Homo sapiens: one gene and its partners. The protein of the gene in region 1 purifies or fractionates together with the protein of each later gene. This does not show direct contact. Each region holds a gene or a part of one and is shown in the gene's direction. Other genes may lie near its edges.

Region 1 (3,651 bases):
ACTTTGGGAGGCCCAGGAGGGAGGCTTGCTTGAAGCCAGGAGTTCAAAACCAGCCGGGTCAACATAGTGAGACCCCCATCTCTACTAAGGAATTTTTTTTTTTTTTAATTAGCTGGGCATGGTAGCACATACCTGTAGTCCCAGCTAATTTGGAGGCTGAGGCAGGAGGATCACTTGAGCCCAGGTGTTCAAGGTTGCAGTGAACCATGATTGTGCCACTGCATTCCAGTCTGGGTGACAGAGTGAGACCCTGTCTCCAAAAAATAAAAAAAAAGTCTTCTGTGAAGTGAAATATGAGACTTCCTTTCCTGTCCAACTGATGAACAAGCTGTTCACTTCTCTTCTCTTGACCCTAACCCAGCCTTGGCTAGCAGTAACATTCTCTGTGACACCTAGCCTAGAGGGCTTTTCATTGTTGTTGTTAGGAGTTGTCTGTTAGTAACACTGAGTTAGATTGTGCCTTTGTAATTTTGAGGCCATAACAAAGTAGGCTGTGTTTTTAAAAATACTTGAGTAAAATTGCATTTGTATAGATTCTTTAAGTTTAAGTCATTGACACACAAGGATCTGCCTTTTATAACAATTAAAACTAAATATTTGTTTTTCTGAGAACTTTATGAGAAAACTGAATTTCTTAAGAGTACAGTAGGCTGGGCGCAGTGGCTCATGCCTGTAATCCCAGCACTTTGGGAGGCCAAAGTGGGTGGATTGCTTGAGCTCAGGAGTTTGAGACCAGCCTGGGCAACATGGCGAAACCCAATCTCTATCAAAAATACAAAAATTAACTGGGCATGGTGGTATATGCCTGTAGTCCCAGCTACTTGGGAGGCTGAGGTGGGAGGATCACCTGAGCCCAGGAGTTCAGGGCTGCAGTGAGCTGTGATCATGTCACTGAACTCCAGCCTGGGTGACAAAGTGATACTCTGTCTCAAAAAAAAAAAAAAGTACAGTATGTTTTTGGTGCCAGAATGCTAAAAGAGTTTCATCCCTTATGAAATGCAAGAAACTTAAAAATTCCATAGTTGTTTTTGTAATTCGATATGAATTTTTTAGAAGTCTTTTTAGAGTCAAGAGACTGCCTAGCTCCTAGGCATCAATTTCTGTGTGCAGAAGCCCACAGCACACTATTTTCTAACCATTGATTCTGCCCTTAATAGGCATTCCATGAAGAATACTCCAGGCTCTATCAGCTTGCCAAAGAGACCCCCACCTCTCACAGTGATCCTCGACTTCAGCATGTCCTTGTCTACTTTTTCCAAAATGAAGCACCCAAAAGGGTAGTAGAACGAACCCTTCTGGAACAGTTTGCAGATAAAAATCTTAGCTATGATGAAAGGTGAGAAGAGAATATTCAGGTGAATCCCTTGGTCTGGGTTGGGCTAGATGGACTCCTCTGTTGGGGAAGTTTTGCCCTGTGCCTTTTCATTGCTTTCTGAACTTTGTCCCACACAGATCAATCAGCATTATGAAGGTGGCTCAAGCGAAACTGAAGGAAATTGGTCCAGATGACATGAATATGGAAGAGTACAAGGTAAAGTGTTTTCTTTAAGTCTATAGAGCAAAAACATTAATTCCTGAGGTAAATGGTACCTGAGGCAAAATAAACAATTTTGTGCTATTACAAACTGACTTGTTCTTCCACTTTCCCCTCAAAATCCTGGTAAAGAATGGATAAATGATATTTTCTTGCCCTCAGAATAGCAGGTCTCTTTATTTTCATTCTTCATTTAGAGTGAGTCAACATTTCACTTCCCTTAAATACCTATTTTAGCCTTGTCCTAGGCAGTAAAATTCTTGAAATCATGCTTTTGGTTTGTTTTAAATGATAAAGTTTTAAAAATACGCATTAAAATACATAGCTACACATGTTTTCAATTGCATCCCATGTAAAACAATGTTATGTACCACCCAAGGTGTATTCACCACACTTACTGAACTTGAACTTGCTCTGTATGACTAGAAATGTCCGTGTCCTTCCATATTTTCAATATCTGGATGGTTTTACCAGTCCTAAAGAGGTCATTCACTTAAGCTAGAGCTGAATATCTTTTACATAGCTGTTAGAAATTAGGATAAAATCCGAAGCTCGTAGGAAATAAGTACTTCTGTTACTCAAGTGAAAGGAACAGAACATTGAAAATTAAGGTCAGTGGTAGACTTTTATTTTAAATGTTGAGTAGGTTTTTATCTGAAAGCTTTTGTTTGTTATTTTTGTGGCTAGCCAGATGTGCTCAGTAAATATTTGTAATGAATTTAAAACTTAGATGGGAAGGACACTAACAATCTATTATGATCATGATTATTAATAATCGTCATTCTTTTTCAGAAGTGGCATGAAGATTATAGTTTGTTCCGAAAAGTGTCTGTGTATCTCCTAACAGGCCTAGAACTCTATCAAAAAGGAAAGTATGTTGGCCTTTTATTTTACCAAGATTATTAGTCAGGATGCTGTTCTCTGTAGATGCCTACCTGGGAATACTAAGAGTCACAGCCATGCATAACCTCCCTTGTCACATACACTAGTGTGCCTCTTCTCTTGCAGTGCTTTGGTTTTGCTCTAAACATCACACATGGTTTTTCATCCTTCAAATGATTAGATGTATTAGCTGCGAGATAATATTGTGCCAGGCTGTCTTTGTGATCAATGAAGATGAACTCAGAAAATGAATTTTTGAGTTGACATAGACCCTAGTGAGCATTTCTTGTTTTAGAGATGGGAAAACCTGAGGCCTAGGGAAGTTTCATATTTGCTTTGGATGGCTAGGCCAATTTGTAGAAGAGATGAGACTGGCTACGGTCTTTGGTCCTTCACTTTTTCAGAATTGCAGCCAAGTAGGTTCTTGAAATGGGGAAAAGTGAGGTCTAAGCCCTAGATTTTAGTAAAAGAGCACTCAGCTGTTGTTTATCTCCCATTTTTCTAAGGTACCAAGAGGCACTTTCCTACCTGGTATATGCCTACCAGAGCAATGCTGCCCTGCTGATGAAGGGGCCCCGCCGGGGGGTCAAAGAATCCGTGATTGCTTTATACCGAAGAAAATGCCTTCTGGTTTGTACTGTTTGTAAAGCCTTAAGGTTTTTTTGTTGTTTACCTCTGCTCCTTGAAGCCAGGAAAATATATGGCTTTCAAAACAGACTATCTCCAACAGGTTGTAGATTTCCCCCCAAAATTCTCATGAACAGTTTTACATTGGAACAGGTTTTTTTTCAGTTACTTTTAGTGAATGTCATTCTTCTTCAATGATAACTGATAGAAGTTAAGATGAGAATCAGTCATCCCTCTGTGTGCCCTTCATGTATGCCTGCATTATAGATTTTATCACATTGCTTTCCTACTAGGTTGTAAATTCCTTGAGCTCAGATCCTTTTCTCACTCAGCCATTTCCTCTGTGCCTGTCATGTAGGAACCATGTAATAAATGTGTGTGGAAGGAATGCAGCATTTTTTCCATGTTCACATTTAAGCTGGTAGACTTAAAGTTTTAGTGACTTCTGACACTCCATTTTTTTAAAATAAAGGTAGGAACTGTAAGAATTGGTCCTGCTGTTCTGATAACATCATTGTCACATACTAGTGAAGACTAACTCTCTCCTGGCCTGATTTGCACTGTATAACTACATGGAAAGGCAGACCTACATCCCCTTGCCTCCCCAG
Region 2 (3,651 bases), on another chromosome or scaffold:
TGCTGTGAAGAAAAGCCTATCATAGAAGGGAGAGGGAGATGCTGCCCTAGCGAGGGTGGTCAGCGAAGGCCTCTGAGGAGGGGACATTGAGTTGGAAGAGGAATTTCTGTGGAGAAGGAATAGCAAGAGCAGAGGTGGTGTGCTCAGCATGCAGGAAGAGCAGCCCGGAGGCCAATGTCAGCTCAAGTTTCTCAGGCAAGACCGAGAACCTGAGGAGGTGAGGTCGAAGGAGTGGACAGAGAACTGTGGATGATGTGTTGCGATTTTACCCTGACACTGGTTCATGCCCTGGCTTGGCCACTTAAAATTGGGTGACCTAAGGCTGGGCATGGTGGCTCACACCTGTAATCCCAGCACTTTGGGAGGCCGAGGCAGGCGGATTACTTGAGGTCAGGAGTTCGAAACCAGCCTGGCCAACATAGTGAAACCCCGTCCCTACTAAAAAATACAAAAATTAGTCGAGTGTGGTGGCACGTGCCTGTAGTCCCAGCTACTCAGGAAGCTGAGGCAGGAGAATCACTTGAACCCAGGAAAAGGAGGTTGCAGTGAGCCTGGATTGCACCACTGCACTCCAGCCTGGGTGACAAGAGCAAAACTCTGTTTAAAAAAAAAAAAATTGGGTGACCTTGGGCAAGGTATTTAACTTCTTTCTATGTGCCTCAGATTCTAAGATCTGTGGAATGGGGATAATATTAATACCAAGCTTATAGGGTAGGCATGATCGTTAGGTGGAATAAATCATGTGAAGTGCTTAGAGAAGTGCCTGTTAACCATTGTTATTCTGGGTTTGGTTTTTTTGTTTTGTTTTGTTTTGTTTTTTTGAGACAGAGTCTGGCTCTGTTGCCCAGGCTGGAGTGCAGTGGCATGATCTTGGCTCACTGCAACCTCTGCCTCTGGGGTTCAAGCGATTCTCCTGCCTCAGCCTCCCCAGTAGCTGGGATTATAGGCGCATGCCACTGTGCTCGACTAATTTTTGTATTTTTAGTAGAGACGGGGTTTCACCATGTTGTCCAGGCTGGCCTTGAACTCCTGACCTCAAGTGATCCACCTACCTCAGCCTCCCAAAGCGCTGGGGTACAGGCATGAGCCACCACGCTGGGCCCATTGTTATTCTGAATGCGCTGGGGAAACATCACATTATTTTGGACAGATCTGAGCAGGGACATGATCTTCCTACAGTTTTAACAGAATCACTGACTTCTGGGTGGCAAACAGTCTCGTGGAGCAAAAGCAGTGGGGAGGCTAATGCAATATTCCAGCTGGGAGGTGACAGTGGCCTAATCTGGAGATGGCTCCCGAGATCTAGGCTTAGTGATTCCTCTGACCGGCCTTGCTGGCAGTGAGAGGAGATGGGGCACAGACATCTGTTCTCCCAGGGACCCCAGCCCCAGCTGCACTTCTCCCTCCAGGAAAGCCAAAGTAGATGTGACCTTTGGATCCCTCACGTCGGCAGCTCTGGGCCTGGAGCCCGTGGTCCTGGTAAGAGTCCTGGTCATGGGAGAAGGGGCAGGGAGCCTGGAGTCAGGCAGATGCTAGGGTCCCCCTCAGGTCCCTTCCTCCTCTTCTCCCTAGCGTGATGTCCGAACAGCCTGCACCCTCCGGGCCCAGTTCCTGCAGAACCTCCTGCTTCCCCAGGCCAAGAGGGGCAGCCTCCCGTGAGTGTCCCTAGCCCCCAGAGACCCTGTAAAGACCCTGGGTTTTAAGTGGGGGTCTCTTATTTATTAATTCCTCAGACACTGAGCTTCTGGGCTACGTTCTGTAGAAGGGGACTTCCAGGCTGGGAATAGAAGGAGACAGTCTCTCATCACAAACAGTGACAGCCAGGTGGTCAGGGCTGTTGCGGGAGTGAGGAGGCCTGAGAGGCTCTGGGCACCCAGAGGCAGTGCCTTTCCCAGCTAAGAAGGCAGGGAGGGGAGAGGTTCTCTGGTGAGGAGGCTTAGCTGGGGTGAAGGGTCCAGAGAGTGTCCCAGATGAACAACCCATGTAAAGGCCCCAAAGCCAGCAGGTTGGTATAATTGGGGAACTCAAGTCTAACAGGCATAGGGAAGATGACAGCCCCTACCTTATAGGGTGGTGGTGATAACTAGAGGATAATTGACGTGTCTTGTAACGTTCTCTGTCCGCTTACCCAACCCCACAGAACCCCTCATGATGACCACTTTGGCACTTCGTACCAGCAGTGGCTGAGCTCAGTGGAGGTGAGAGGGCAGGGCTCTCAGGAAAGCCACACCCTCCCGCTCCTTGATCAAAACTTAGGGTGCCAGGACCTAACTCTTGATGACAGCCCTATTCCCATGGGGTCTCAGCTCACAGCCCTGCCCCGATCCTGCCCTGACTTCACCCTCCCTCCCCCTAGACGCTGCTGACAAACCACCCCCCAGGCCACGTCCTGGCTGCCTTGGAGCACCTGGCTGCAGAGCGGGAGGCAGAGATTCGGTCCCTGTGCAGTGGGGATGGGCTTGGCGACACAGAGATATCCAGGTGTGGGGCAGGGTATTCTCACAGTTGGGGAAGGCCATGTGAGTGGGTGAGCTGGGACAGCCTCAGGACCCCTGGCCCAGCCACCTGCTGATGGGGTAGAACTGAAACCCACTGCCTGGTGGGGTGGCAGGACTGATACTGTCCACCCTCGAGTACCAAGGCAAGGCCGCAGCACGGCTCCCTCAGCAGCTCTTCCCCCACCCCAGACCCCAGGCCCCGGACCAGTCAGACTCCAGCCAGACCCTGCCGTCCATGGTTCATCTCATCCAGGTGACCCCAGGGCTCGCCTCCCCACCACATTCCAAGACTTCCTTAATCCCCTCACCCATGGATCATGCCCTGGGTGTACCCTGATTCTGTACCCCGCTTGCAGGAGGGCTGGCGGACTGTGGGTGTGCTGGTCTCCCAGCGGAGCACCCTCCTGAAGGAGCGGCAAGTCTTGACCCAGCGCCTCCAGGGCCTGGTGGAGGAGGTGGAGAGACGCGTCCTGGGATCCAGTGAGAGGTGGGGGGCTCTCCGAGAAGAGGTCTCTAGGCCATCTCGCTTCTGAGTGTCTCAGCCCATTGGACTTTTTCAGCCTCTGTGGCTCCTATCTCTGCCTCCTCTCCCTGCAGTGTCTCTCCCTGGTTTATGGTCCCTTGTGTGGCTCAGTCACCCTTCTCTCCTTTGCTCTCCTCCACTTGCCCTGCAGGCAGGTGCTGATACTGGGGCTTCGGCGCTGTTGCCTGTGGACGGAGCTCAAGGCCCTGCACGATCAGAGCCAGGAGCTGCAGGATGCAGCTGGGCATCGGCAGCTCCTGCTGAGGGAGCTACAGGCCAAACAGCAGCGGATCCTGCACTGGCGCCAGCTGGTGGTGAGAGGCTAGGCCCAGGGCCTTGTGGAGGGCCAGAGGGGAGGCTTGAAAACTATGGCTAAGAACTGGGCCTGAGCCCTGTGTGGTAGCACATGCCTGTGGTTCCAGCACTTTGGGAGGCTGAGGTGGGAGGATCTGAGCCCAGGAGTTCAAGGCTGAAGTGAGGTATGATCACACCACTGCACTCCAGCCTGGGTGACAGAGCAAGATGCTATCACTTAAAAAAAAAGAATGCTGTCACTTAAAAATTAAGAACTGGGCCTCCTAGGCAAGAGCCCAGGTGAGACTCCCAGGCAGAAGCAGGACCTAAGCAGAG
Region 3 (3,651 bases), on another chromosome or scaffold:
ATGACATCTAAAAATATTTTAAATGACACTCTCTAAATTTACCTGCAGTTATCACTGTTAGTGCTCTTCCCTGGAAGTATATATAAGCCAAAACAGTGGAAAGACCAGCAATCTTCTATATTTGGCCTGGGAGTGCATTATACAGGATATTTTTTTCCTTCTGGCAGCAGATTTTTCTTTCTAATTATATAGTGTTCAAGGCTACAAGAAATTTACTTTGCATTCCCTGTGAACACACACCAGCTGGGAAGCAGAAGGATATGTGACGACTGAGCTGTGGGTTTCAGCATGCAAAATATCCATAATATGGATAGTCAAATTCTAAGGCAATATAAAATTAAGTATTATTTTATAGATCATTTTCTCTTTGTCGATTTTTGTCTGCCCCGAAATATAGTTGGAATGTCTAATTTTGTGAATGAAAGTGTTTGTTTTTGTTTTTGTTTTTAATCAAGTTACTTGGTGAAAGAAGCCAGGTCTGGTACTTTAAAAATTGTGCTGTTATTGATAATACACACTCTTAGTTTTGAGTGATGATTTCAAGGTACTGATAGGGCAACCGTACAACAAAGAGAACCACTGTTTCTCTTTACCTCTGGCCCTTACGGTTTCTCCCAGTCAGGCTGCTTTTTATGTGTTCAGCATGTTCATACCCAAGAGTCAATTCTCAGTAGCTTTAAACTTGAGGCCAAAGTGGGGAGATAGATACCTTTTTCCAACCTTTCTTTGTTTATAGAAAACCTATTAGACAGTTCTTTCTTATAGATCATAGATATATTGTAACACACTTGGGAGGTCTAAAACCCTTAAGTGGAGTATTATCCAAAATTAAAATAGTAACATTTAAATAAATTAGAAAGATATTCCACATATTTAATCTAGTAAAGTTATGTTAGAGTTCATGGTTTTCTTTCTTTCAGAAGTTGGTGTTAGTTCTTACGTGGCACCTTTTGGTGATTTCCAGGTGCATCGTTAGTTTTCTACAACCATTAGTAATGGCGGAAACCACGATTACTGTTGCACCAACCTAATAGAAAGTAGGACTGTGTATAACATGGCATTATCAAATGCAGACATTTAAAAATTAAAGCCTTGGGTAAAGTATCACAATTCATCCATGATTGGGAATCTCACTGGTATTCAATCAAAATAGTATATACCTCACATTTCCAATCTTTTTTTTTTTTTGAGACAGAGTCTCACTCTGTCTCCCAGGCTGGAGTGCAGTGGCGCGATCTCCGCTCACTGCAAGCTCCACCTCCCGGGTTCACGCCATTCTCCTGCCTCAGCCTCCCAAGTAGCTGGGACTACAGGCCCCCACCACCACGCCCGGCTAATTTTTTTGTATTTTTAGTAGAGACGGGGTTTCACCGTGTTAGCCAGGATGGTCTCTCTCTCCTGACCTCATGATCCGCCCGGCTCGGCCTTCCAAAGTGCTGGGATTACAGGCGTGAGCCACCGCGCCCGGCCAGTCTTTTGTTCTTGACATTAAACTAACAGTATCGCCTGGGCGCAGTGGCTCACGCCTGTAATCCTAGCACTTTGGGAGGCCAAGGCGGGGGGATCACGAGGTCAGGAGATTGAGACCATCCTGGCTAACACGGTGAAACCCCGTCTCTACTAAAAATACTAAAAAAATAGCCAGGCGTGGTGGCGGGCGCCTATAATCCCAGCTACTCGGGAGGCTGAGGCAGAAGAATCGCTTGAACCCGGGAGGCACAGGTTGCAGTGAGCCGAAATTTCGCCACTGCACTCCAGTCTGGTTGACAGGGTGAGACTCCATTATCAAAAAAATAGAGAAAAAAAAAAAAATAAAGCAAAACAAAACGAAAAACAAAAAAAAACACAGCATCTATACTGAGTGAACGTATATGCATATTGTATGCACTGTTGGTTTTATTTTTATTTAACCAGACTGAGAAAGAGGTAGGTTCGTAGAAACTTCAGAAAGAAACACAAATTAGGACACACTTGGAAACTACTATTACTGTGGTATTAGAATCTTTGGCATGGGAGATTGATGGCTTTAGCAAACTGTATGAAATTCAAGTATTTACTTAATTATATGGTTCACTTTATAAAATATTTAAATTCTCTTCTGACCATTTATTCAAGTGCTTCAATATGAACTTCTGAAATATTTGCATTTTATAGGTATATTTTATGTGTTTAATTTTTTCAAAAGCACTGTTTTGACTTCTCGAGGGATTCTCACATTAAGTTTATCAGGTCCAGAGATACCAGACAATTTGAACCACATGGTTAATACTAGATCATGTCATAAAGTGATATACCAATGAGAAGTTAAAAATATGATTAGAAAAGCTATTTGTTTTGCCAGTTTGATCAAAGCAAAAAAATTAGAATTGAATAATTAATTCATAAGTTTAGGATACATATAATTCAATTTCTCTAGTTAAATAGAAACAGAGTAGAACATCAAAAGTAGGCCTGTCATTTAAGGTTGACTCTCTTGCCTTGTCTATGAGTTAGGGAAATCAACCTTAATGTGGTAAAATTTTCAAATTATAAATAAGGATACTAATATTTAACCAGTATAGTAAGTTATTCTGACAGTGAGGTAGTAACATCCCAGTTTTGCTACAAAATATATCTAAAAGAATATATACAATAGCATCTATAGTTATTGTGATTTGTTTTTAAAAATTGCAGAGAATGCGACAGGGTACTCCTGAAAAAAAAAAAAGAAAAGAAAAATGAACAACATTTTGTTTTTATTTAGCTGTAACTGAAGAAATGTTGTCCCAAACTTTTTCTGTTTTGGGTCTGGTTGCCGTTGAGATCGAGTTTTCCCTTTGTAAGAGGGCTCATTGCTTGCAATTTCTTAACCCAAAAAGAAGAGGAAAATCTATACTTTAATAATGTATTTGCCTGTGAATAATACTTTAGAAAAGTAGGATTTTTTTACATTATAGATATTAGCTCACAATTACGATTACTTCTTTAGAATGAATTCCTAGATTTGCAATTAAATCAAAGAATCCACAAAATTTTAAGGAATTTTTATGCCTATTGTCAATTTATCCTTCAGAAAGATTAATCAAAATACCCCCTCATCAGTGGTATTTGAGATGCCTCTTTTTCAGTACCTTACCCAATTTAATATTGTAACTTTTTTTTCTTTTTTTGAGACAGAGTCTCGTTCTGTCGCCCAGGCTGGAATGCAATGGCATGATCTCGTCTCACTACAACCTCTGCCTCCCCAGGTTCAAGCAATTCTACTGCCTCAGCTTCCCGAGTAGCTGGGATTATAGGCACCCACCACTGCGCCTGGCTAATTTTTGTATTTTTAGTAGAGATGGGGTTTTGCCATGTTGGCCAGGCTGGTTTCAAACTCCTGACCTCAGGTGACCTGTCCGCCCCACCCTCCCAAAGTGCTAGGATTACAGGCGTGAGCCACTGCACCTGGCCTGGTATTGTAACTTTATGTATTTGATAGTTGATGGTTAAAAATGACATTGCATTTATTTTTGAATATGAATCTCTATCATTTTATTTCCCATTGTTTTAAAATAGTATTGTAATCTTATTTGATAGTGCTAGCTTGCTTTTAGCTGGCTTTCAGGTTGTTCACTATACAAGTGTGCTTGGCTAAGAAGGCAGAGCCCACAAGTGCTTTTTTTTTCTAAT

Evidence for each region.
Region 2: the proteins of USP28 (region 1) and HAUS5 purify together in Homo sapiens (affinity purification with mass spectrometry; one large-scale study listed by BioGRID and IntAct). This does not show direct contact.
Region 3: the proteins of USP28 (region 1) and GUCY1B1 purify together in Homo sapiens (affinity purification with mass spectrometry; one large-scale study listed by BioGRID and IntAct). This does not show direct contact.

The regions. Positions count from the first base shown.
Region 1 is NC_000011.10:113,802,553-113,806,203, reverse strand, and holds part of USP28 (ubiquitin carboxyl-terminal hydrolase 28), read left to right. Parts: intron 1-1,157; coding exon 1,158-1,336; intron 1,337-1,452; coding exon 1,453-1,531; intron 1,532-2,326; coding exon 2,327-2,406; intron 2,407-2,922; coding exon 2,923-3,046; intron 3,047-3,651. UniProt on the Homo sapiens protein: Deubiquitinase involved in DNA damage response checkpoint and MYC proto-oncogene stability. Involved in DNA damage induced apoptosis by specifically deubiquitinating proteins of the DNA damage pathway such as CLSPN.
Region 2 is NC_000019.10:35,615,715-35,619,365, forward strand, and holds part of HAUS5 (HAUS augmin-like complex subunit 5), read left to right. Parts: intron 1-1,409; coding exon 1,410-1,479; intron 1,480-1,572; coding exon 1,573-1,655; intron 1,656-2,140; coding exon 2,141-2,198; intron 2,199-2,356; coding exon 2,357-2,481; intron 2,482-2,687; coding exon 2,688-2,751; intron 2,752-2,854; coding exon 2,855-2,985; intron 2,986-3,172; coding exon 3,173-3,335; intron 3,336-3,651.
Region 3 is NC_000004.12:155,789,945-155,793,595, forward strand, and holds part of GUCY1B1 (guanylate cyclase soluble subunit beta-1), read left to right. Parts: intron 1-3,651. UniProt on the Homo sapiens protein: Mediates responses to nitric oxide (NO) by catalyzing the biosynthesis of the signaling molecule cGMP.